Homo sapiens: one gene and its partners. The protein of the gene in region 3 purifies or fractionates together with the protein of the main gene of each other region. This does not show direct contact. Each region holds a gene or a part of one and is shown on either strand. Other genes may lie near its edges. The genes, in order: SNRNP70, SNW1, CDC5L, SNRPA, PRPF8, SNRPD1 and ILF2.

Region 1 (4,029 bases), on a different chromosome or scaffold from region 3:
AGCCTAGGCAACAGAGCGAGACTCCAAGTCAAAAAAAAAAAAAAAAAAAAAGTACCTGGCTCCCAGGCATGGTGGCTCACACCTGTAATCCCAGCACTCTGGGAGGCCAAGGGGGGTGGATCACCTGAGGTTAGGGGTTCGAAACCAGCCTGGCCTACATGGTGAAACCCCATCTCTACTAAAAATACAAAATTAGCCAGGCGTGGTGGTGCATGCCTGTAATCCCAGCTACTTGAGAGGCTGAGGCAGGAGAACTGCTTGAACCGGAGGCTGCAGTTGGCTAAAATCACGCCACTGCACTCCAGCCTGGGCAACAGAGCAAAACTGTCTCATAAATAAATAAATGGTAACTGGCACATGACCTGCATCATCAAAGGGCACCTACCACCCGCCTGTGCCCATTAAGTTAATTGGCCAGTAATATCTCTCAAGTGCGGGTTCACCAAGGGTGGCAAATCCCACTGAAGACATACCTTTCTGTTATCTACGAAATTCTGCTCTGCAACTCCCTCGCCTCCAGCTGCCCTTACCTACCCAATGCTAGAACGTTCTTCTTGTAACTTCCGACTGTGTGCCAGCTTTTCTCAGGTGTGCTCTGATGCACCTAAGAGATGACCCTTGTCATCCCATTTCACAAATAAAAACACAGAGGTCCAGGAGCCTAAGTCATTCATTCCTATTTATCCCAAAGGTGCAGAGCTAAGATCCCCATCTGCAGTTTTAAGCCCTCCAATACTCAATACTGGGTGCTAAGCCTTTATGAACATCATCTTATTAACAATAAAAGTAGTAAACAGAGTAACAAAGGCTGACATGTGCTGACTGCTTGGTGCCAAGCCCCCTGACATACAGTTTGCCATTTAATTCTCCACCAACATTATAAGGGTGCTACCACTATCCCCTTGCTAAAGATAAAGAAACCAATGCATTAAGAGGATACAACATTTGCCCAAAGTCAGAGCTGATAAATGGTGTGGGTTAGGCATGAATCCTCAACCACTACTCACTGAATTTTCACAAAAATTCTACAAAAGGTGTACTATCAACCCCACTTTTTTTTTTTTTTTTTTTTTGAGACAGTCTTGTTCTGTTGCTCAGGATGGAGTGCAGTGGCGCGATCTCGGCTCATTGCAACCTCCGCCTCCTGGGTTCAAGTGATTCCCGTGCCTCAGCCTCCCAAGTAGCTGGAATTACAGGCACCATGTCCGGCTAATTTTTGTTATTTTTAGCAGAGACGTGGTTTCACCATGTTGGCCAGGCTGGTCTTCAACTCCTCACCTCAAGTGATCCGCCTGCCTCGGTCTCCCAAAGTACTGGGATTACAGGCGTGAGCCACCGTACCGGGCCACAACCCCACTTAAAAAAAAAATTTTTTTTTTGAGAGACGAAGTCCTGCTCTGTCACCCAGGCCGGAGTATAGTGGCACAATCACAAAGCACTCCAGCCTCCGACTCCTGGGCTCAAGCAATCCTCCCACCTCAGCCTCCTGAGTAGCTGAGACTACAGACGCACTCGACCACACCCGACACCCGGCTCCAACCCCATTTAAAACAGAGAAACTGAGGATCACAAAGGTTAAGCCCCTCGCTTAAATCACGCAGCTGGCAAAATGGCCAGAAGCTGGACTCGCAAATCCAACCCGTTGCTCCCCAGAACCCAAACCATTCCTGGCCTGCTCAGTGAACTCACCTCAAACTCTCGAATGTACGGCGCAATGCCACAATAAGGTTGATTGTGGTGTTTTTCATGTGGCAGTTTCTCCAGGGGTGGCAGGTATGGAATAGGGTCACGGGGGGCAAAGAGGGCCAGAAGGTTGGGCGGCAGGAACTGGGTCATCTTGCCAAGTCTGAGAGCAGAAGCAGGACAGCCTTAGGTTAGATCGGGTCTGCACAGAGAAAGCCCCTGTTACTCCTTGACTCTCAAAATAAGAAAGACAGGAGAAAAGTCTCGGAATTAAAACAGGCTCTGTAAGGGCAGAGAACAGTCCTGTGTTGCGGAGAAAAGGGTACGTCTTGGTGGGGGTGGAGGTGAAAGGCCGGTAAAGAAAACAAAAATAACGGCTGGAAAAGGGTTCCTGAAGAGTGAAGTCTCAGAGTCCTCTGACACGAGCTGTGGGGCGGAGAGGTTCCCTGGGAATTTCTGGGGAAATCAAGGACCCGAGGAGGGAGGCCCAGAGCAGCTGTGGCTGCTCGTCCCGTGCCGTGGAGGGCAAATTACGAGATGCAGTTTGCAGGGTCCTGGGGATCGGAAGTTTCCAAGCAAAGAAAGAGAAACATAAGGAGCGAAGCCCCAAAACCAAGTGCTTGTGGGTAACAGACCTGGACCCCGCAAAAAGCGAAAGGAATTATGGGTAAGGGTCCAGGACAACATAGACAAACGAAAAAGAAAAAAGGCCACACACCGCAAGGGCCTGTGGGTAGGGAACCACGAGGGCGCTGTGGGAAGCGGGCGTGGGTGCCCAGAGATTTCGGGGTCCGGGAAAGGGATGCAGAAGGGACCTGTGGCGGGGACGCGGGAAAGGGGCCTGGCCGCGGGGAAGAGGACCGGGCCCACCGCTGGGGCTTCTGGGTAGCGGCCCCGCACCCCGTCGGGCCACTCAGTCACACTCACTCACCGCGTAGCGCCCTCCTCGCTCTGGCGTCTGTCCGGAGGCTCGCGGCGGCTGCGGCAGCCCCTCAGCAACAACAACTCCTGCTTCGGCTTCCACTCCGGGGGCGTCCACGTCCGTCTGATTCCGTCGCCCGCTAAGCGAGCGCACCAGGCCGCTGCTCAGCCACCCGCGCGGCCTCCGATAGCGACTGGAGCAGGGGGTGGGTCCCGGCCGCAAATCCCTCCGCCGTCCTCACTGCGCACGCGCCGTGCGGTGCCAACAACAACCCACACACTAGGACCCGGCGCTGCCGCGGGCACAGCGCACGCGCGAGGTCACTACCCCGCCTTTGGGCACCTTGAGTACCTCAGCCGCGGGGGGCTGGCTTCTGCACTGCGCGCGCGCGCTTGCCCCAAGCCGCCCCTCCACCTCCCGCTTTCCGCGCCGAACCGCCTATGTCCGCGAGACTCTCCCTGATGCTCCGCCCCTTTCCGATCACACTTCCCGGATCTTTCGCGCATGCGTTTTGCGTAGAGAACTGTAACGTACCTCTCCGCCGCCTAGCAAAGAGTCCCTAGGTGAACAGCCTGATTGCGTTGATGTCTAATCTATTCAATCAATAACTATTCATCGAGCATCTCGTGTGTGCTAGGCACTGTCTGGGCTTTGGGGGTACAGCACGTGATTAAAGCAAAGTCTTCTGCTGCTAGGGCTTACATTGTACTGGGAGAGACAATAAAAGCATTTAACTGAATAAAGATAATTTGAGGCCAGGCGCGGTGGATCACGCCTGTAATCCCAGAACTTTTGGGAGGCTGAGGCGGGCAGATCACCTGAGGTCAGGAGTGTGAGACCAACCTGACCAACATGGTGAAAGCCCGTCTCTACTAAAAATACAAAAATTAGCCGGGCGTGGCCGTGCGCGCCTGTAAGCCCGGTTACTCTGGAGGCTGAGGCGGGAGAATCGCTTGAACTCGGGAGGCGGAGGTTGCAGTGAGCCGAGGTCGTGCCATTGCACTCCAGCCTGGGCGACAGAGCGACTCCGTCTCAAAAGTAAATAAATAAATAAATAATAAAAGATAATTTGAGATAGTGGCCAGCATAATGAAGAACGATGGAGCAGAATAAAGGGATGGGAAGTGAGAGCGAGGCTGTTTTAGAAAGGGTGATAATGGAAGGCCCCTCTGAAGAGGTAACATTTGAATAAAGGACAGATAGAAGCGAGATCTGGGGTGGGGCCGGGGGGGCGGTGTTTAACAGTAAGTGCAAAGGTCCTGAACTGAGACCAGATGGCAGGAATCTCAGGTTGTTGGCCATGAGATCAGAGAGCTGGCACTTGTTATTTAGAGCCCTGTTCTTAAGTATTGTATCTTAAGTTTTGTGGATGGATTCAATAGCCTGTTTAATAACTACAGAAATTATTGCAAATTAAAATGACT
Region 2 (3,500 bases), on a different chromosome or scaffold from region 3:
CCTACCTCTGCCTCCCAAGTAGCTGGGAATATAGGTACGAGCCACCATGCCCAGCCACTGCTACTTTTAACATAATTCAAACAGCAAGAGATTTATCGTGTCCACAAAATTTAAAATGTTTCCTAAAATATTTATCATTCAGGGAAAACATGAGAGGATTACCTTGTCTTTTGACTGTCCTTGTCGAGCAATTGCATCATATTTAATTTTTCCTTCAGAATCCACCTGAATGGCCAGCGCATTCGACATTTTTTTCTTTCGTCCCATATCCAGTGGATACTGGGCCACATGGATCTCTGGAAAAGCACCTCCATCTCCAAAATCCTACACATTAGAAGTAGTTAAATAAAATAGTTAATCATCATTTGACATTCAAGATATATTCATTCATTCAACAAGTAATTGTTGAGTCCTTAGTATGCTAGATGCTAGAGATACAGCAGAGTTCCCTGCCTCTTGTGGAGTTTACATTCTAGTAGGCAAAGATATAAAAAACACATTCTTTGGCTTGTGATAAGTACCATGAAGGTAATATAAAAGAAAAAGACTGGGAAAAGGGGCTACTTTTGATAGGGTGGTTGGGGACAGCCTTTGTGAAGAAGTAACATGTGAGCTAAAGCCTGAATGATTAGAAAGCAGTCATGGGAAGACACACACACACACACACACACACACACACACACACACACCACACACACACACACACAAAGCATTTTCTAGATGGATCAAATAGCCAATGCAAAGGCCCTGCTGCAAGAATGAGCTTGGTATATTTTAGGAAATGAGAATTCAGTGGGGCTAACAGCTTAATAAGGACAGCAGAGCTTGAGGCACAAGTTACATGAGTAAAAAACACCAGATCACAAAGGGACTTACATGCTACAGCAAGAAAATGTGGATTTCATATATGCAGGACGAAACTAAGTAAAATGGCTAGGACAAGGCAAAATATATGTGTATATATTTTAGCATATAAATACATATTTTAGTGAGGAACAGGTAAAGCTATACTTGGGGCAGAAATATAAAAGATTTTTTCTTGGAATCAGATTTTATTAACATATTATTTATTCATTGTTATGTGAGAAGCAAATGAATACAATAGGAAGGATCCAGAAATGAGTTTACTACATTTCTACTAGTGATTATACATAATTATTTAGGAGAGAGAACTGAGACTGCTAAAGTAGAACAAGCTAAATAAAGTTTGCTGATGAAATGTAGTATTTTAAAAAGGTTTATCAAATAAACATGAGGATCAAGTATAATTTTTAAGTAGTTAAAAAAAATTCAGTAGTATTTGCTTAGTACACTTTAAACATGATTCACACATGTATTATCTCATTTAATCCTTGTAACTCTTTAACATCATTTTAAATGGAAACATTCAGGCTTAGAAAAATTAAGCGGTGTTCCTGAGATCTCATAGGTATTATATGCAGCACCTGAACCCAGATCTTTTGAGACTCCGAAAAGCTTTGTATTTTCTACTACTATGAAATACCTTTCTTTTAGCTCAAAACAGCCAAATGAGTACTATTAAGAAATAATAGAAAACACAAATTAAAATTAATCATTTAGAGGGGGTTTGATGGAAAAAAAAGAAAATATTCACTTTTACAAGACCTCTTTAAGTAATACTCCGTTAGATCTAAGATATATGAGTTCCTAAGTACAATATGCTTATTTGCTAAAGAGATGTTTGAAGTTTTTGAAAACCAAGAGAATAAAGCTGAGAGACATTTTCTTGTAAATGAGAAAGAGTTAAAGCATTCCTAAGATAAGTGCTTCCCGTACCCAAGCCATCAATCTGACACATGCTTGGATTTGCTAGAGTTTTTCAACTATAATAAGTACTTCAGAACTGTAGCTGTAGCATTATGTGGTCATTAAGCTTGCCAGAAAATCATAGCTTTTATTTTGAAAACTAGAACAAAATGCCTTCTTCCACAGAACATTCACTCCCCTCAAGCAGCATCCATAGCATTTCCAGATTAGCTAGCCATTTCAACTTGATTTTCAAATAAGTTGTTCTGTTTCACCAGGATATATGAAACCACTGATAGCCAAGTAAGAATCTAAAAATCTAATAGCAACCAAGTATCGTAATGCTGAAATGCATGGATGAGATTTACATTCTATGTAAGATGATGCCTGTCACCCTCATTGTGCAATGTACTGACAGACCAAACAATATTTATAATGCCTCAACAGAGACACTCAACTGCTCTATTAGATGATGCCAATCACTACTTTTTTGCCCCAGGTAAGACTCCTTGATAATCTTTCATCTTCCTCTGCCTCCCATAAATAACACTATCAGAGAGAACAAAAGCAACAAAAATCCCTTAATAATTGCAATATGACTGGCCTTCACACACCAGCATTCATAAGGACCAGAGGAAAGCTGACAAAAAAGCAACAAAAAGACCTACATGTGGGTTTTTTGGAATACATAGGACAAGATATGATCTAGTTGGGTGTTCCTCTTATAAACTCTAATAAAGAGTGTGGGGCAGGCGCGGTGGCTCACACCTGTAATCCCAGCACTTTAGGAGGCCGAGGCAGGTGGATCACCTGAAGTCAGGAGTTCAAGACCAGCCTAGCAAACATGGTGAAACCCTGTCTGTACTAAAAATACAAAAAATTAGCTGGATGTGGTGGCACGTGCCTGTAATCCTGGCTACTTGGGAGGCTGAGGCAGGAGAATCGCTTGAACCCAGGAGGCGAAGGCTGCAGTGAGCCAAGATCGCACCACTGCACTCCAGCCTGGGAAACGGAGCGAGATTCCATCCCAAAAATAAAAAAAATAAAAATTAATTAATTAATGTAAAGGATCCTGAGTAATTAGAATAGGTGCTGCCAAGGAAGCTTGTTCTTTTTATTTTTATTTTTTATTTTTTTTGAGATGGAGTTTTGCTGTTGTTGCCCAGGCTGGAGTGCAATGGTGCGATCTTGGCTCACCACAACCTCTGCCTCCCAGGTTCAAGCAATTCTCCCGCCTCAGCCTCCGGAGTAGCTGGGATTACAGGCATGCGCCACCACACCTGGCTAATTTTGTATTTTTAGTAGAGACAGGGTTGCTCCATGTTGGTCAGGCTGGTCTCGAACTCCTGGCCTCAGGTGATCTGCCCGCCTTGGCCTCCCAAAGTGCTGGGATTACAGGTGTGAGCCACTGCGCCCGACCGGAAGCTTGTTATTTGGCAACAAGCTAGAGATAGAAAGAGCTATTCCAGATGGTTCCTTCTCCCTCATTGCCTTCAAATCAACCAAATTTTGTCTTATACCCGCAAAAATATATTTAATCTATATATCAGATATATATTAACATTCTCAAATTAAAGGTAAGAAAACAGGTGAAGAGAAAGAAATCAGCAAAGGAAGTGCTACTGGAGTTTTCCCTGAAGGAAAGTTGTCTCTTCAGGGTTATGTGGTATTATCGGAGGGGAGGAGGAGGAGGAGGAGCCCAAATATGAAAACCACTTTCATCTCTCTTATCT
Region 3 (3,500 bases):
AATGTGGGATAACACATTAAAATTTCATGCCATTTCTGAAGGAGTAAATGTAACTCAAAGTAGCTGAGAACTAAACACAAAAAGTATCATCCTCTGTTCCCCACTGAAAAGCACATTTACATGGGTCCCCTCTAAAATATTGTTTCCACTGATGTCATTCTCACTCCAATCCCCTGAGATTCAAGGTCCCTAAAATCATCCAGCAATGGACTGCAGCTACTGAAAGGGGTCATAAAATATCAGTTCTAGTTTAGGATTCACCACTTACCCACCATGAGACCTGAGAAAGTTGAGACCATGAGACCTCAATTCATCTGAGCTTGTTGAGTATTCCTTACTAGAAATATCTGGGCCCAGAGTATCTTGGATTTCTGATTTTTTCAGATTCTGGAACATCTGCATTATACTAACTCTAATCCAAAAAGCTTCAATGAGCATTTCTTTTGAGCTTCATGTCGGCACTCAAAAAGTTTTGAATTTTGGAGCATTTCAGGTGTTGGATTTTTGGATTAGCAATGTTCAACCTGTAATACCGATCCTATTTATATCACTGTGCTGTTACGTGCAAATGAGAAAGTAATTACGTATAAGATATATTAGTACAAAGTGTTACTAATATTATTTTGACACACTCTATCTAAATTTCCAACTCCAGTTTAGATAGAGGTCTTACTATGTTCCCCGGACTGGATTCAAACTCCTGGGCCCAAAGAATCCTCCCACCTCAGCCTCTCGAGCAGCTGAGACTACAGGCTCGTACATCGCACCACCCAGGAACCAAGATGTATTTGTTTTTAAGACTAACCAATAACATCTTTTCTTTGCTAGATTGAAGCAATGTCTAAAAGACTACCTATGTGTATTTTAGAGAAGCATAATGAATTTGACAGAATGTATTTAAATTTCCATATATATATTTTTAAGAATGCTCATCAAAATATTGTGAGTATGTTAATTATGTGAGGATACATTATTAATGACATAAGTTATTTACTTTAGAAGTTTTTTCAATATTAAAAAGGACTAGGTAGAGATCTTGGGACATTTAATGGCTATTCTTCATTCTTCCAGCCTACTGACACATTCAGCCAAACTCACGCTTCTTTCAGTACAGTTACCCACCTGCTTTCGAGCATCCACATCAGCAGCATCTTCAATGTAAGTATCATCTATTTCACGTTCTTCCAGCTCCTTCTCGGCATTTTCTGGTAGAACAATTTCAAAATCATTCTTAGGGGCAGGAAGGCCCAACAACCCTAAACGGAGATGTTCTCGGGATTCTCTTTCCTGTAGAAAAGAAGTGGTCCTTCTCAATTCATGCATATTAAACATTCCACCAGTATTTTATGAGTCTCTTAAAAATTGATAGCACAACAGGGTGACTCTAGTCAAAATAACTGTACATTTTAAAATAACTAAGAATAATTGGATGGTTTCAAACACAAAGGTTAAATGCTTGAGGGGATGAATACCCCATTTTCCACGATATGATTATTACACATGCATGCCTGTATCAAGATATCTCATGTACCCCATAAATATACACACCTACTATGTATCCACAAAAATTAAAAATTACAGAAAGAGAAAAAAAGTCTCAAAAAAAATCAGCCTAATATTAATTCTAGAAAAATAATCCTGACTTCAGAGCTAAGACAAGTCTTATGTTTATTTTCTATCCCCCCTTCTTCCCAACATTAAGACCAACCAAAAACTTTCACTTGTGATCACTGAAGATACTCTGGGATATTCCAACAGGAGGTCTGAGGCCAGGGCAGAAAAAAAGACCACTTTGAGGGAACACATTTCTGACACCGAAAGTTAACAGCAAATGAAAAGAACAGGTTCAAAAGTTAGTTTGTCCTTGGACTAATAAAATCCACTCTAAAAGATACTTGAATTTGTATGTATGTGTTTATTTTTAATGGAAATACTAAATCCCATGCAGAAGAAAGAAAGTAGAGTCCTGGTTCCCAAAAAAGCCTCCTGGTACCCAGAGTTTTCCCATCCATCCTCAGTGCTTACATGTACCAGGTGTGAGGAACAGATGAGTTGCTATATCTAAAACATCCTCCATGCTTACTCATATTGTAGTCTCCATCTGAGACAGCCCCCACCCTCCTTCAGAACATAGCTCCTCTAATAAGGCTTTCCTGTTACCCAACAAATGTGACTATTCCCTTCTTTAACTACCCTAAGCACACTGGTTTTACTCAAAGGGCTTATTCTGTTCTGATATTGCAATTATTTTTGGACTTAGTTTAGTACTGTCAATCTCCCCAGAATATAAATTTCCTTAGGACAAAGGACATCTTTATTCAACTTTAGATCCCCTCAAATGTCCAAATGCATGCTCTGCATGCATGAGGTTCTTAATCTATTTAATTCTTATGTATCCATTCAGAGTTGGCTTTAGTTGATATCAATTTGAACTTTAAAAAACATATATAAATCAACCAAATATATACATGAGGTTAGAATTAATTTTAAACTGAAGACAAGCCAGTATCATTAGAAGTTTTTTTTTTAATTTCACAATGATTTCTGTGGCATTAGATAATAAGGCCCAATAGCAAAGTAATAAACGCAGTAACACGGGCAGAAGCAAAACTTAACTTTTTACAGTTAGCTTTCTACCTCAGCTTGCTAAAGAAAACTTCAGTGAAATCAACAACGAACATCAATATTCACAAACCTAGTAAGCATAAAGAAAGGTGGGTTTTGAGCCCAAAATATTCCCTTTCATCAAGTCTTACAAATAATTCTTTTTCTGGCATCCACAGGTGTATAGATTCTTAAGGTATATGTGATATGCACTAACAGGAGAAATTTTAATTTGGCATCCATGAGATATTAAAAAAAAATTTAAGAGTATTAAAAGGGAATTGACATTTACCATCTGCTTCACGTAAGAGGGATCACTATAGTCTGCCATTCCATCCTCGGGATTAATGTTTAACTTGTCTCGAAGAGGAGTTCTACCCGGAGTAGAGTTAATAACTGGTTTGGGAGTTGTTCCACTCCGGGGAGTCAGCCCTTCAGCTCCATTAGAAGGAGTCCTAGAAAGACAGGAATCCCAATTAACAGAAGTGCCACTTACATTTGGATTGTGCTTTCAAATGTTTTTCACATAAATTATTTCACAGGAAATATAGAAAAAAAAAAGAATAAAGATTTCAAAATTCTGTCCAGCTGGTTTTGTTAGGATCTCTAGGTTAAAATCAATGTTTGGTCTAGCTAGCATGGTATTTTTATTTTACTGACTTACAATAATCACTACATTTGATATTTTCTTGCCTTCCTAAACTACGTCCACTAAACATTATTTCAACCTTTTCTTGGCACATTAGGGCGACTAAGAACATGCAGTGGGCAGGGAGGTGGGCCACCACACTCAATGACCCCAGATGACTCTTTGAGTTTTGTGTATATTTGTCTCCTCCCTCCCTATCAAGCTGTTGGTTCTCACATCACTATCACTGTCATTATTACAAATGTAC
Region 4 (4,121 bases), on a different chromosome or scaffold from region 3:
GGTTAAACCCCTTCTCTACTAAATATACAAAAAATTAGCCGGGTGTGCTGGTGGGCGCCTGTAGTCCCAGCTACTCGGGAGGCTGAGGCAGGAGAATGGCGTGAACCCAGGAGGCAAGGCAGAGCTTGCAGTGAGCAGAGATGGTGCCACTGCACTCCAGCCTGGGCGACAGAGGAAGACTCCGTCTCAAAAATAAATAAATAAATAAAATAAGATTTAAAAACAAAAAACCAGGGTTCTATGTCACCAATGTGTCCCCAGCACTGCCCGATAATGGTTGGGCACCACACTCTAAAAACATATGCAGGCCGGGTGTGGTGGCTCACACCTGTAATCCCAGCACTTTGGGAGGCCGAGGTGGGCGGATCACCTAAGGTCAGGAGTTCGAGAAAAGCCTGGCCAACATGGTGAAACCCCGTCTCTACTAAAAATATAAAAATTAGCCAGGCGTGGTGGCGGGTGCCTGTAATTCCAGCTACTCGGGAGGCTGAGGCAGGAGAATCGCTTGAACCTGGGAGGCAGAGGTTGTAGTGAGCCAAGATCGTGCCACTGCACTCCAGCCTGGGTGACAGAGTGAAACTCTGCCTCAAAAAAAAAAAAAAAAAAAAAAAAAAAAAACATATGCAAAATTTACACTCCTGATTTTTTTTTTTTGAGACAGTCTCTATCACCCAGGCTGGAGTACAGTGGTGCGGTCTCAGCTCACTGCGACCTCTGCTTCCCAGGGTTCAAGTGATTCTCCTGCTCAGCCTCCCGAGTAGCTGGGACTGTAGGTGCGCACCGCCACATCCAGCTGATTTTTGTATTTTCAGTAGAGACGGGGTTTCACCATCTTGGCCAGACTGGTCTTGAACTCCTGACCTCAAATGATCTGCCCACCTCAGCCTCCCAAAGTGCTGAGATTACAGGCGTGAGCCAGTGCCCGGCTGCTGGTTTTGCTTTCTTCAACAGCAACTTCACTGGTAACCTCAAACTGAATCCCAACAAGCTCCTTCGGTTCTCCCGATAATTTTCTTGAAGTGATAAGAGCTAACATTTATCCAGCCCTTTACTAGCTGCCAGTTACCATAAAAAAGAAATACTGCAAGGTTTAGCTAATTTAATCTCCCCCAACATCCATGCAAAAAAGGTATTATGATTTTGCTCAGTTTTTAGATCTGGAAAATGAGGTTCAATAAAGGTGATAATTTACTTGAGAATGTGAGAGAGTCTTTCCGATTTCAATAATTGAGTTCTTTTTTTTTTTCCTTTTTTCAGATAGGTTCTTGCTCAGCCCAGGCAGCAGTGCAGTGGTGCAATCATAGCTCACTGCAGCCTCAACCTCTCTAGCTCAAGCGATCCTCCCACTTCAGCCTCCCAAGTAGCTGGGACCACAGACGCACCCCACCCACGCCCAGCCTTTTTTTTTTTTTTTTTTTTTTTTGTAGAGAAAAGGTCTGGCTTTGTCGCCTAGGCTGATCTTGAACTCCTGTGTTTCAGTGATCCTCCTGCCTCAGCCTCCCAAAGTGTTGGGCTTACAGGCCTGAACCACCACGCCCGGCCAAAAATTGGGTTCCTAAGCAGAATTCTATACGGGTGGCCTCAACCACTTTACTTGCTATGTGACCCTGGGCAAGTCACATCACCCCTGTCTCAGTTTCTTTTTCTTTTCTTTCTTTTTTTTTTGAGACGGAGTTTCGCTCTTGTTGCCCAGGCTGTAGTTCAATGGCGCAATCTCGGCTCACTGCAACCTCCGTCTCCTGGGTTCAAGCAATTCTCCTGCCTCAGCCTCCCGAGTAGCTGGGATTATAGGCATGCGCCACCATGCCCGGCTAATTTTGTATTTTCAGTAGAGAAAGGGTTTCTCCATGTCGGTCAGGCTGGTCTCGAACTCCCGACCTCAGGTGATCCGCCCGCCTCGGCCTCCCAAAGTGCTGGGATTGATTACAGGGGTGAGCCACCGCGCCCGGCCCCAGTTTCTTAGTTGACGAATGGGAATAACAATAGCCTTCTTCCTACAAGATTGTTGTGAGAATTAAATGTTATCAAGATTTATATGAAAGCACACAGACCAGCCCATGATACAGAGCGTTAGCCACCATTATGGTACATGTTCATTGTGGGCTGATCACTGAAAAAGCCGGTGACCAAGAAAGCCCCAGTCCTTGCCCTCACGGAGTTCAAAGGCCACTGGGAGGAGAGAGAGCCCCACGACAGCTCAGAGGAATCAGGGCTTGATGGGAGATGGTCTCAGCGTACGGCAAGTCAGCGGCAGCCACGTGAAGGGACAAGGCAAGGCTTCCTGGAGGAAGGGTCCTGTGACCTCAAACCTTGTAAGATGAGCAGCAGTGACCACGTTAAAGGGCAGAGTGTAAGATGAACTAATGGAGTGTTGAAGACAGGAAGTAGTTTGTGTAAAGGCCAAGGAGTTAACTCGAAGTTTGGCTGGACAAACACTTAGAAAGAGAGGCGGGTGCAGGGGACGGAAGAGGGGCCAGCCCGTGCGGGACAGTCTGGACTCCGGACTATCCCGAGAACTCACCATCCTTCTTGATCTTCTCATTGAGGTTGTTGATATAAATAGTGTGGTTAGGGCGGGTCTCGGGAACTGCCATGGAGTGAAGTGTTGAGGTAAGTCTTAAAGGAGGAAAAACGTGACTTTAGCCCTGGGTTTCTCCAAATCCTTTGTCCCAACGTCGGCTGCTCAAGGATCTTCCTCCGAAAAGGAAGTCAGGTAAGGCGGGAGTAGGGGCAAGGACGGAGGCAAAGCGCGACAACAAAGCGTGCGTAGGACCCGCTTCTCCAGCCCGCGTGCGGAGAGAACTCTCGAGAGATTTACTACGACTTCCAGGATGCTCTACGCGACCCGGTGGGCGGAGCACCCTAAATGGCGATTCCCATTGGCCCAAGCATCCGAAGGGCCGTCCCGGAGAAAAAACCCGGATGTGGGAGCCAGTATAGAAAAAAGGGACAGGTCCTAGGCAGCCTGGCCTCGAGCAGCAAGTTTCCTCAGACGGGCCCAGGAAGGCCCGGACGCCAAGCGTACCGCTCGCCTGCCGCCGATGGTCGTTTGCACCGGAGGTTACCTTCCGACAGGGCCGTAGTTCTCTCAACCGGCGCCTGCTACTTCCCTGAGACCAAACCACAAAGCTTTCTCTCCTGGCCCCGCCTCTGCCTTTCTGCCAGCCAATCGCCGCGCGGAAACGCAGTAGCTTGACCAATCAGAGCAAGTCTCGTTTCTGGGCTCAGCTGTTGCCAATCAAAACGATATTTGGGTTCCCGCCTAGGTAGAAAAACCCCGCCCCACTCCCTGAAAGCCCACCTCCTTCCGTGGCGCCCGGGTCTACGGACCAATCAGTGAAGGTCACGAGTCTGTACGCGTCTCGCGCTGCGGTGTCTTCCGGAGGCAATCCTTTTTGGAGTCCCGCCTCTTACCCCCGCCAGAGCTGCGTTTTCTGTCACGTGATCGCAAAATGGGCGGGAACTGTTGCGTGTAATACCACGTGATATGGGAAAGGCAGTGTGCGGGGGCCGCCATTTTCCGGGAGTGGGAGGTGCACTTTACTTCCTGACTCCTTTCCTTTTTCCAGTGGTTATCGCGGCGCCCACCGGCCTCTGATCTCTGAGTCTTCTCCAACCCACAGACGTTTTTTGTTGCTCTGGTTCCAGGACCTTCTCCACAACTAGGCCATTTTCCCTGCCAGGTGTCCTTTTTGACCTCTTGACCTCTGACTCAAAGGTCAGCTCAAAGGTTCCGAACTCGGGCCTGGGATGTGAGGGGGTACTGAACCTAAGTTCTCCGAATCTTTAGCCCTGGGTCCCTAAGTCGCATCCTTAAGGCACCTCACTCTAGATCTGAGCCTTCATATCCCAAACTCACTCATGAGTTTCCACATCCAGCCCCAAAGAATGAGTTAACTCCTACTAACTCTCCACCTAAGACTCCCGAGGTAACCCAACCGGTACCACAGATCCGGTTCCGGATTTAAGGACCCCACCCTGTTAACCGTCAGGTGCCTTATGACTTGAGTCAGCCTCGCAATTCCTGCTCCCGTGGTTTCAAATATTAGCCCTGGTCCTTTCACACCCACTGCTCAGTCCCCAGATTCTGGAACTCAGCTCTTAAACCTTTAAAATCTCCA
Region 5 (3,500 bases), on a different chromosome or scaffold from region 3:
GGCCCAGCAACGCATATTCTTGAAACATCCACTTTGACCAAATCTCTTCTCTACCTCACAACTCTTGCTGAATTAACTCTTCTTTAGCTTCCTAGACGTTCAACATCTGGCTGGGCTGTATCTGTCCAGCCAGTTTCTCTTCCTTTACATTTATAGCATGTTTCATCTTACATTCAGTCCAGGATCTTAGTAGCCCAAACCCCTGATGCTCATCTCCAAATCTGTGTTTTGCTTGTATTTTTCTTTCTAGAATGAACTCCCCTCTTTGCTCTGTTAATCACAGTCCCTCCTTAAGACACGTTTTTTTGTGCAGCTTTTTTCTGATCCTAGTAGCCTTAATTTCTTTTGTTCCTGAACTCTGTAAAACAGTGTATAGTTTAGCACATACTCATGTGTCAGCTTGTGGTATTGTCTTGTTGAAAGGGGCTGTCAGCCTGGTCATTGGACACGGCCATTTGATACTCTTTGTACCTTCTAAGTGCCTAACATTTAACATCAGTGTTCAATAGAAACGTAGTTGGATTATTTCAAAACTAGGATATTCTGTTCTAGTTGATCTGGGAGGGTAGAGACTAAATTTCCATTTTCTTCTCTCTTGCTTTTAAGTTGGCTAAGTGGAAGACAGCTGAGGAGGTGGCCGCCCTGATCCGATCTCTGCCTGTGGAGGAGCAGCCCAAGCAGATCATTGTCACCAGGAAGGGCATGCTGGACCCACTGGAGGTAAGAGGGTGGGGTGGGGTAGGAGAAAAGAGACCTTGAGACCTTCAGGCTGTTTCTCATCTTGGACTTGATCTTGTCTTAGGTGCACTTACTGGACTTCCCCAATATTGTCATCAAAGGATCGGAGCTCCAACTCCCTTTCCAGGCGTGTCTCAAGGTGGAAAAATTCGGGGATCTCATCCTTAAAGCCACTGAGCCCCAGATGGTTCTCTTCAACCTCTATGACGACTGGCTCAAGACTATTTCATCTTACACGGTATGAACCTCGGGAAGAGAAGATCGCTGGAGGAGGAGCGGGTTTAGGGTTAGGAGAAGATCCTGTGTCAGGTTTTTGCCATTTTCACATTTTTAGCCTATAGATTGGGTGGGAACTCTGTTGACTTTCATGAGAGTTTAAGACCTTAAAGTTAAAAATCAACTCTTGGGGCCGGGCGTGGTGGCTCACGCCCGTAATCCCAGCACTTTGGGAGGCTGAGTTGGGTGAATCACCTGAGGTCAGGAGTTTGAGATCAGGCTGGCCAACATGACGAGACCCCATCTCTACTAAAAATACAACAAAATTAGCCGAGTGTGCTGGGATGCACCTGTAGTCCCAGCTACTCGGGAGGCTGAGGCACCAGAATCACTGGAACCCAGGAGGCAGAGGTTGCAGTGAGCCGAGATGGCACCATTGCACTCCAGCCTGGGCGACAGAGTAAGACTGTCTAAAAAAAAAAAAAAAAAGGCCGGGCGCAGTGGCTCACGCCTGTAATCCCAGCACTTTGGGAGGCCGAGGCGGCGGATCACGAGGTCAGGAGATTGAGACCATCCTGGCTAACACAGTGAAACCCCATCTCTACTAAAAATACAAAAAATTAGCCGGGCGTGGTGGCAGGTGCCTGTCATCCCAGCTATTCGGGAGGCTGAGGCAGGAGAATGGTATGAACCTGGGAGGCGGAGCTTGCAGTGAGCCGAGATCATGCCACTGCACTCCAGCCTGGGCGACAGAGCAAGACTCTGTCTCAAAAGAAAAAAAAAAAATTCTTGGGTTTCATGAAAGGTTAGGATTAAAGTGGGAGAGCCTCAAGCAGCTGACCTACCCCACTCTTCCAAATCTTTTCCCAGGCCTTCTCCCGTCTCATCCTGATTCTGCGTGCCCTACATGTGAACAACGATCGGGCAAAAGTGATCCTGAAGCCAGACAAGACTACTATTACAGAACCACACCACATCTGGCCCACTCTGACTGACGAAGAATGGATCAAGGTCGAGGTGCAGCTCAAGGATCTGATCTTGGCTGACTACGGCAAGAAAAACAAGTGAGCAGTGCTGGTGGGGACACAGACAGGAGGTCTATATACGGTTTTCTGGGGTTTTTTGGAAGCACTTAGGCTTAGAAGTTTCTCAAGAAGGCCAGGCGCGGTGGCTCATGCCTGTAATCCCAGCACTTTGGGAGGCCAAGGTGGGTAGATCATTTGAGGTCAGGAGTTTGAAACCATCCTGGCCAACGTGGTGAAACTCCGTCTCTACTAAAAATACAAAAGTTAGCCGGGTGCGATGGCGCCTACCTGTAATCCCAGCTACTCGGGAGGCTGAGGCAGGAGAATTGCTTGAACCTGGGGGCAGAGGTTGCAGTGAGCCGAGATCATGCCACTGCACTCCAGCCTGGGCGACAAGAGTGAGACTGTCTCCAAAAAAAAAAAAAAAAAAGACGTTTCTCAAGAAATTATCTTGTCTTAGCCAGGCTTGAGTGCTCATGCTAGTAATACCAGCACTTTGGGAGGCCAAGGTGGGAGGATTGCATGAGCCAGGAGTTGAAACCAGCCTGATCAACAAGAGACTGACGCCATCTCTACCAAAAAAAAAAAATTTAAAACAGGTGTGGTGGTACACGCTTGTAGTCCCAGCTTCTTGGAGGCTGAGGCAGGAGGCTTGCTTGAGCCCGGGGGTTTGAGGCTGCAGTGAGCCATGATGATGCCACTGTACTCCAGCCTGGGTAACAGAGCGAGACTCTTGTCTTGAAAACAAGGAAAGAAATTATCTTACAGAGTCTCGAGGAAGAGAGATACAGCAGTGTCTTCGAATAGTATGGGAAGCATCCCTGTTTTAGGGCTTCAGTCTGACTCTTGGCCATTGTTTCTCACTGTTGCCATTTCAAACAGGGCATTTCTTTACTGTCCATACATGGGAAGAATTTTGAACATCCGAGACCCTAAGTATCCGAGACTGCTGCCAACACACACACACACCTTCCTCCCCTCGTCTCCCTCCCTGTCATCGTGGCAACCAAAATTATCCATAGGGTGACGGACAATACCACCTCTGATTAAGAACCAGTATTCTAGGGTTTCTGGGGTTTCCATTTCTGAGAACAGTTCCATGCCAGAGCATTGTTTTGGTCAAGGAAGCGTAGGGTTTATGGATGCTAAACAGTGGGAAGGTGCACACGCAGTGTGCTGTCCCGCTTGGATCTGACGAATCTTGGAAGTGTTAGTGCACCTCCGTTTCACACTTCCTGTAGAAGCAGCTCTTGTGGATTGTCTGGGGCGTGAGTATAGGCTGTCCTGTCCTACCAAGTTACACCCTTTCCATTGAGGCAGAAGTGACCAAGGGGAAGGGATCCTTGTAATATAACCCACACCATCCCCACAGTGTGAACGTGGCATCACTGACACAATCAGAAATTCGAGACATCATCCTGGGTATGGAGATCTCGGCACCGTCACAGCAGCGGCAGCAGATCGCTGAGATCGAGAAGCAGACCAAGGAACAATCGCAGCTGACGGCAACACAGACTCGCA
Region 6 (3,500 bases), on a different chromosome or scaffold from region 3:
CAAAAAATTAGCTGGGCATGGTGGCGGGCACCTGTAGTCCCAGCTACTCGGGAGGCTGAGGCAGGAGAATGGGGTGAACCTGGGAAGCAGAGCTCTCAGTGAGCCGAGATCACGCCACTGCACTCCAGCCTGGGCAACAGAGCGAGACTCCGTCTCAAAAAAAAAAAAAGAAATAAAGAATTACAGTCGGTAAAAAGATTACAAGCTTATTATAATGCCTATAAAGTAAAAATCTCCCTTCCTAACCCCCTGCACTGTGGGTATGTAGGAATATTATTCCAGATCACTTTATATGCATTCAGAAGGATATATACAGATTTCTTTTGACATAAATTGGGTCATATTTTATTCACGTCTATAACTTGTAGTCCTCGTTTAGCAGTTTATATTGGACATATTTCCATTTCAACATACAAAACATTCTAAGAACTGAGGCTGGGCGTGATGGCTCATGCCTATTTATAATCCCAGCACTTTGGGAGGCCGAGGAGGGCGGATCATCTGAGGTCAGGAATTCAAGACCAGCCTGGCCAACATGGTGAAACTCCATCTCTACAAAAACACAAAAATTAGCTGGGCAGGATGGCGTACGCCTGTAATCCTAGCTACTCAGAAGGCTGAGGCAGGAGAATCGCTTAAACCTGGGAGGCAGAGATTGCAGTCAGCCAAGATCGCACCACTGCACTCCAACCTGGGGACAGAGCAAGACTCCATCTCAAAAAAAATTAAAAAAAAATAAAAATAAATTAGCGAGGCAAGGTGGCGCACGCCTGTAATCCCAGCTACTTGGAAGGCTGGGGCATGAGAATCGCTTGAACCCGGGAGGCAGCATTTGCAGTGAGGTGAGATTGTTCCACTGTACCCCAGCCTGAGTGACAGGGCAAGACTCCATCTCACAAAAAGCCAAAATAACAAAATAACATTCTAAGAACTGGAAAGTATTCCACTATATGGAAATGTCAAAATTTATTACCGCCTGTTGACGGACATTACTTTGGTTCAATTTTTTCCCATTACAAACCCAATTATGCAAACCCTCACCAACACAAGTTGCTATAAGTCTTTCAAATTTTTGTCAATTTGATGGGGAAAAAATTTGCTTTTCCTTAATTACCTGTGAGATTGAATATCTTATCTTTTTTTTTTGACACAGAGTCTCGCTCTGTCACCCAGGCTGGAGTGTAGTGGCACAATCTCGGCTCACTGCAACCTCCGCCTCCTAGGTTCACGCCATTCTCCTGCCTCAGCCTCCCGAGTAGCTGGGATTACAGGCGCTCGCCACCACACCTGGCTAATTTTTTGTATTTTTTTTTTAGTAGAGACGGGGTTTCACCATGTTAACCACGATGGCCTTGATCTTCTGACCTCGTGATCCACCCGCCTCGGCCTCCCAAAGTGCTGGGATTACAGGCATGAGCCACCGCGCCCTGCCTGAATATCTTTTCATTAACATGGGAAAACTATTTCTTCCGTGAATTACCTGTTCACATTATTGACATTCTCAATTAGGTTGAGTTTTTCTTTTATTTTCTACTGGTTTGCCAGTCATTCAAGTTTGTTGTTTATGGTTTCTTTAGTCACACAAACTTTTTTCACTTTTATGTTTTGAATTTGTTCACCCTCCTGGGATACATAATTTACCTAAGAAAGGGTTTTTTCTATGCCAAGATTGTAAAAAAATAGTGTCTTATTTTCTTCTACTTTTAGAGTTCTAATCTACTTGGAATTGATCTTTTTTATGCAGTGTAAGGCACAAATCTGTCTTTATTACTTTCCCCAACTGAATAGCCAGTTGCCTTGATAATATATAATGAACAATCTATCCACTTCTCACTTCATCTAAATTTCCGTTCTCCCCTTTTTATAAAATTTTGCAGAGGATGAAAAGTTAAAGGGTTTACAAATATTGTCAATTGCCAGTGCAGTGGCTCATGCCTGTAATTTCACCACTTTGAGAGGCCAAGGTGGGATGATCACTTGAGGCCAGGAGTTCGAGACCTGCCTGGTCAACAAAGCAAGATCCTGTCTCTACAAAAATAAAAATAAAAAAAAAATTAGTTGGCCGGGTGCGGTAGCTCATGCCTGTAACCCCAGCACTTTGGGAGGCCAAGGTGGGCGGGTCACAATGTCAGGAGTTGGAGACCAGCTTGGCCAATATGGTGAAATCCCATCTCTACTAAAAATACAAAAAATTAGCCAGGTGTGGTGGTGCAGGTCTGTAATCCCAGCTACTCAGGAGGCTGAGGCAGCAGAATCGCTTGAACCTGGGAGGCAGAGGTTGCAGTGAGCCAAGATCATGCCATTGCACTGCAGCCTGGGTGACAGAGCAAGACTCCATCTCGAAAAAAATACAAATAAAAAAATTAGCTGGGCCTGTTGGCTCATGCCTGTAGTCTCAGCTCCTCGGAGTCTGAGGTGGGAGGATCGCTAGAGCCCAGGACTTTGAGGCTGCAATGAGCCATGACTGTGTCACTGCCCTGGAGCCTGTGTGGCAGAGCAAGACTCCGTCTTTTTTTAAAATTCTATTTTTTTTTGAGACGGAGTCTCGCTCTGTCACCCAGGCTGGAGTGCAGTGGCATGATCTTGGCTCAATGCAACCTCCACCTCTTGGGTTCAAGCAATTCTCCTGCCTCAGCCTCCCAAGTAGCTGGGACTACAGGCGCCTGCCACCACACCTGGCTGATTTTTGTATTTTTAGTAGAGACAGGGTTTCACCCGTTGGGCTGGTCTCGAACTTCTGACCTCAGGTGATCTGCCCACCTTGGCCTCCCAAAGTGCTGGGATTACAGGCGTAAGCCACCAGGCCTGGCCCTTTTTTTTAAAGACAGTCTTCGCCAGGTGTGGTGGCTCATCCCTGTAATCCCAGCACTTTGGGAGGGCGAGGCAGGCGGATCACCTGAGGTCAGAAGTTCGAGACCAGCCTGGCCAACATGGCGAAACCCCGTCTCTGCTAAAAATACAAAAAAATTAGCCAGACTTGGTGGCACTTGACTGTAATCCCAGCTACTGGGGAGGCTGAGGCAGGAGAATTGCTTGAGCCTGGGAGGCAGAGGTTGCAGTGAGCCAAGACTGCACCACTAAACTCCAGCCTGGACAATAGAGTGAGACTTTGTCAAAAAAACAAACGAAAAAAAATTGATCACACCATCTCAAAGTAAGTTGTAGGCATTACGACACTTCAGCATGCATTTTCTAATGACATTCTCCTATATAACCATAATCTCACAATCACATCTAAGAAAATGAACCCCACACTATCATACAATACACAGTTCATATAAAAACTTTTAGTCTATAATATATACTTTGAATTAACAGATCCTATCATCACACTAAATGGTACACATAAGATAACCTATTATCCTCCCGCACTAGACTATTCTTGAGGGTAGGGATCGTAAGCTCTATATCTAATCCTAGACTGTAATAGGCACTGAATAATGTTGGCTGAAATGTTTTAATGAATAAAGGGAAACCAACCTTAAAATGCCTTTTTTTAA
Region 7 (3,353 bases), on a different chromosome or scaffold from region 3:
CCTCCGCCTCCCGGGTTCGAGCAATTCTCCTGCCTCAGCCTCCTGAGTAGCTGGGATTACAGGTAACCGCCATCATGCCCCACTAATTTTTTATTTTAGTAGAGACGGGGTTTCATCATGTTGGCCAGGATGGTCTCCAACTCCTGACCTCAGGTGATCTGCCTGCCTCAGCCTCCCAAAGTGCTGGGATTACAGGCGTGAGCCACCGCACCCGACCAACTCTGCAATTCTTTAAGCCACCCTGTGTTTCTCATATCAGCAAATCACTTGTCTAAAAATCACTAGAAACATGCAAGATCTGTTTTCTTCAAAAGCCTATCCCCCTCCATAAATATTTTCTCAGTCCTTTTTAAGTCCTCCAAATGCTTTCTTGGTCACCCCATCTGAAAATTCCACTAGCAAGCTGATAAACTATTTCCAAATTACAGAGGGAGAGAGCAAAGTTCAGAATAAACCTAAGTTCTTCAATTCCCAGGAAGCTGCATGTGGAATAGCAACAAGCTAAGTAAACTAAACAGCAACAATACCATGTTTTGAATATCCCCTAAATTTTCCAGCAATGGAAAAAAAAGAACTAACAATGGAGTTCTGGATCCAGTTTTCGAAGATTGGGTGGCACTGTTGTAATGAGAATCTTCACTGTAGCATCAGAAGAACTGATTTCAAAGCCAGTTTCGTTGGTCAGCATGGTTAAAACTGAAAAAACAGAATAAACAAAAACTATAACTCACATTTCCATTAGATGATCAAAGTTAAATCCAGGGTGGGGGGGAACAGGTGGATTTTTTAAAACAGCACAAAGTCCAGAATGAGAATTTAGAATACAGAGCTTTAGAAGGGAGATCAAACAGATCTCCCTTGAACACCTTGAACACCTGAAGCCCCTGCCAAAAACTCCCACAACATAAAACTCTGCATTTACTCTTCCATCTGGTCTGATCTGATTTTGTTGAAAGTGTACTTACAATTACAAGACCTGGTTCCTATGGCTACTAAATACAGAATCAGCAACAAATGCAAACCTTCAGAAGGATCCTGTGCTCTTAGGCTTTCCACGACTTTGTTCCCCAGGGCAGCAACAGCTTCCACTAATTGACAGAAAATGACATAATGTTATAATAATTTATTTGCCTAGACTTTCTATGTATCTCTAAGCTACTTTGCACTCTCATTTCTGTCCCATATCCAAGGCTGAAGCAAGGGTAAGTAATAGAATATATACTTTTATAAGAGAAAGCCAAGGCCTGGGCAGAAAAATTGGAAGACTCAGGGAACAGGACCCCTCCTGTACTCATATCCTCTTTCTACAGCAGGGTTTTTCAGGTCAGTGGCAGTTAATAACATTTTGGGCTAGACAAATCTTTGGGGTGATGGGGATGTAGGATGTTTAACAGCATCCACGGCCTCTATCCTTTTTCTTTTTTTGAGAAAGGGTCTCACTCTTGTCACCCAGGCTGCAGTGCAGTGGCACAATCACAGCTCACTGCAGCCTCAGCCTCCCGGGCTCAAGCAATCCTCTCACCTCAGGCTGCTGCTTTTTTTTTCTTTTTTTCTTATTTTTGAGACAGGGCCTCACTCTGTCACCCAAGCTGAAGTGCACTGGCACGATCTCTGCTAACTCCAACCTCTGCCTCCCAGGTTCAAGCAACTCTCCTGCCTCAGCCTCCCAAGTAGTGGGGATTACAGACGCCCACCACCACGCCTGGCTAATTTTTATATTTTTGGTAGAGACTGGGTTTTGCCACGTTGGCCAGGCTGGTCTTGAACTCCAGGCCTTGGCCTCCCTAAGTGTTGGGATTACAGGCGTGAGCCACTGCACCCGGCCCCACCTCAGGCTTCTGAGTAGCTGGGACCAAAGCATGCACCACCATGCCCAGCTAATTTTTTTCTTTTTGTAGGTACAGGATCTCTCTATGTTATACAGGCTGGTCAAACTCCTGGGGTCAAGTGATCCTCTTGCCTCAGCCTCCCAAAGTGCTGGGAATACAGCCACCACACCTGGCTTCTACCCTTTTTTGATGCCAGTAGCACCCCCTTGTTTTAACAATCAAAAGTACCGCCAGATACTGCCAGATATCCCCTGGGTGGCAAAATTACCTCCAGTTGAGAAACATGGCCGTACAGTAACCTGCTATACATTCTTTCAGACACACACACTCCAGCGTTTGTCCCTTATCACTCATTAAAAAACATTTGTCAGGCAGGGTGCAGTGGCTCACGCCTGTAATCCCAACACTTTGGGAGGCCAAGGCGGGCGGATCACCTGAGGTCAGGAGTTTGAGACCAGACTAGCTAACATGGTGAAACCCCGTCTCTACTAAAAATAGAAAAATTAGCCTGGCATGGTGGCACTTGCCTGTAATCCCAGCTACTTGGGAGGCCAAGGCAGGAAAACAGCTAGAACCCAGGAGGTGGAGGTTGCAGTGAACCGAGATCACGCCATTACACTCCAGCCAGGGCAACAGAGTGAGATCCGTCTCAAAAACAAAAACTAGAAACATTTGTCTTACAAACATCCTTTCTCACAAGAAATTTGAGCTTTCAAGATCCGTAAGGGCTGGGCACAGTGGCTCACGCCTGTAATCCCAGCACTTTGGGAGGCTGAGGTGGGCAGATTGCTTGAGCTCAGGAGTTTGAGACCAGCCCGAGCAACACGGTGAAACCCTGTATCTACAAAAAATACAAAAATTAGCTGGGTGTGGTAGCACACATCTGTAGTCCCAGCTACTCGGGAGGCTAAGGCGGGAAGATCACTTGCTGTAGTGGAGGTCAAGGCTGCAGTGAGCTACAATGGTACCACTGCACTCCAGCCTGGCCAACGGAGGGAGAATTTGTCTCAAAACAAAAAAAGATACCTAAACCCCTAATCCAAGTGCTATGTTCTGTTCCCATGACCAGAAACAGGCACACTCACACGTTGGCAGAATCTTGAGTATCACCACCAGGTCAGCCACATTGTGTCCTGTAGTCATTGTCCCCTTTTTATAGGATCCCACCTGTCGAACTTCTTCAATTTGCTGTTGGAAAAAGGATTTCGGGGAAAAACAATTTAGAAGAAAAAAAGGTGCCTAGGTCCTCCCAGAACTGTTACAACACAGCTACCTGTTACCCAAATTAAGAAGTAGCAGAGGTGAAATCACCCCCAAAACCACCACATGAAAGCCTGATACATCACAGCTAGCATAACAATGATACAAGTCTTGTCCCCAAGATCAGTACTACAAAGAAATTCCACTGTACTTTCTCATTTTAGGCTTGGCTTTGGATAATAGACAACTGAAAATTAAAAGTCAAGAGCCAAGGCAATTTCCACACTACCAAAGCTGCCCTTTCCTAAAACTAAATCATCAAAA

The links.
Region 1: the proteins of CDC5L (region 3) and SNRNP70 purify together in Homo sapiens (affinity purification with mass spectrometry; 4 studies listed by BioGRID and IntAct, with this or other methods). This does not show direct contact.
Region 2: the proteins of CDC5L (region 3) and SNW1 purify together in Homo sapiens (affinity purification with mass spectrometry; 5 studies listed by BioGRID and IntAct, with this or other methods). This does not show direct contact.
Region 4: the proteins of CDC5L (region 3) and SNRPA purify together in Homo sapiens (affinity purification with mass spectrometry; 4 studies listed by BioGRID and IntAct, with this or other methods). This does not show direct contact.
Region 5: the proteins of CDC5L (region 3) and PRPF8 fractionate together in Homo sapiens (co-fractionation; 5 studies listed by BioGRID and IntAct, with this or other methods). This does not show direct contact.
Region 6: the proteins of CDC5L (region 3) and SNRPD1 purify together in Homo sapiens (affinity purification with mass spectrometry; 4 studies listed by BioGRID and IntAct, with this or other methods). This does not show direct contact.
Region 7: the proteins of CDC5L (region 3) and ILF2 purify together in Homo sapiens (affinity purification with mass spectrometry; 4 studies listed by BioGRID and IntAct, with this or other methods). This does not show direct contact.

What each region holds. Positions count from the first base shown.
Region 1 is NC_000019.10:49,084,222-49,088,250, reverse strand, and holds the start of SNRNP70 (U1 small nuclear ribonucleoprotein 70 kDa), read right to left. Parts: upstream 2,801-4,029; 5' UTR 2,615-2,800; intron 1,847-2,614; 5' UTR 1,837-1,846; coding exon 1,690-1,836; intron 1-1,689. UniProt on the Homo sapiens protein: Component of the spliceosomal U1 snRNP, which is essential for recognition of the pre-mRNA 5' splice-site and the subsequent assembly of the spliceosome. SNRNP70 binds to the loop I region of U1-snRNA.
Region 2 is NC_000014.9:77,751,157-77,754,656, forward strand, and holds part of SNW1 (SNW domain-containing protein 1), read right to left. Parts: intron 325-3,500; coding exon 163-324; intron 1-162. UniProt on the Homo sapiens protein: Involved in pre-mRNA splicing as component of the spliceosome. As a component of the minor spliceosome, involved in the splicing of U12-type introns in pre-mRNAs.
Region 3 is NC_000006.12:44,422,206-44,425,705, reverse strand, and holds part of CDC5L (cell division cycle 5-like protein), read right to left. Parts: intron 3,060-3,500; coding exon 2,897-3,059; intron 1,288-2,896; coding exon 1,123-1,287; intron 1-1,122.
Region 4 is NC_000019.10:40,749,882-40,754,002, reverse strand, and holds the start of SNRPA (U1 small nuclear ribonucleoprotein A), read right to left. Parts: upstream 2,801-4,121; 5' UTR 2,595-2,800; coding exon 2,522-2,594; intron 1-2,521. UniProt on the Homo sapiens protein: Component of the spliceosomal U1 snRNP, which is essential for recognition of the pre-mRNA 5' splice-site and the subsequent assembly of the spliceosome. U1 snRNP is the first snRNP to interact with pre-mRNA.
Region 5 is NC_000017.11:1,653,868-1,657,367, reverse strand, and holds part of PRPF8 (pre-mRNA-processing-splicing factor 8), read left to right. Parts: intron 1-606; coding exon 607-720; intron 721-802; coding exon 803-976; intron 977-1,824; coding exon 1,825-2,018; intron 2,019-3,351; coding exon 3,352-3,500. UniProt on the Homo sapiens protein: Plays a role in pre-mRNA splicing as core component of precatalytic, catalytic and postcatalytic spliceosomal complexes, both of the predominant U2-type spliceosome and the minor U12-type spliceosome.
Region 6 is NC_000018.10:21,618,814-21,622,313, reverse strand, and holds part of SNRPD1 (small nuclear ribonucleoprotein Sm D1), read right to left. Parts: intron 1-3,500. UniProt on the Homo sapiens protein: Plays a role in pre-mRNA splicing as a core component of the spliceosomal U1, U2, U4 and U5 small nuclear ribonucleoproteins (snRNPs), the building blocks of the spliceosome.
Region 7 is NC_000001.11:153,664,641-153,667,993, forward strand, and holds part of ILF2 (interleukin enhancer-binding factor 2), read right to left. Parts: intron 3,018-3,353; coding exon 2,915-3,017; intron 1,089-2,914; coding exon 1,023-1,088; intron 697-1,022; coding exon 580-696; intron 1-579. UniProt on the Homo sapiens protein: Chromatin-interacting protein that forms a stable heterodimer with interleukin enhancer-binding factor 3/ILF3 and plays a role in several biological processes including transcription, innate immunity or cell growth.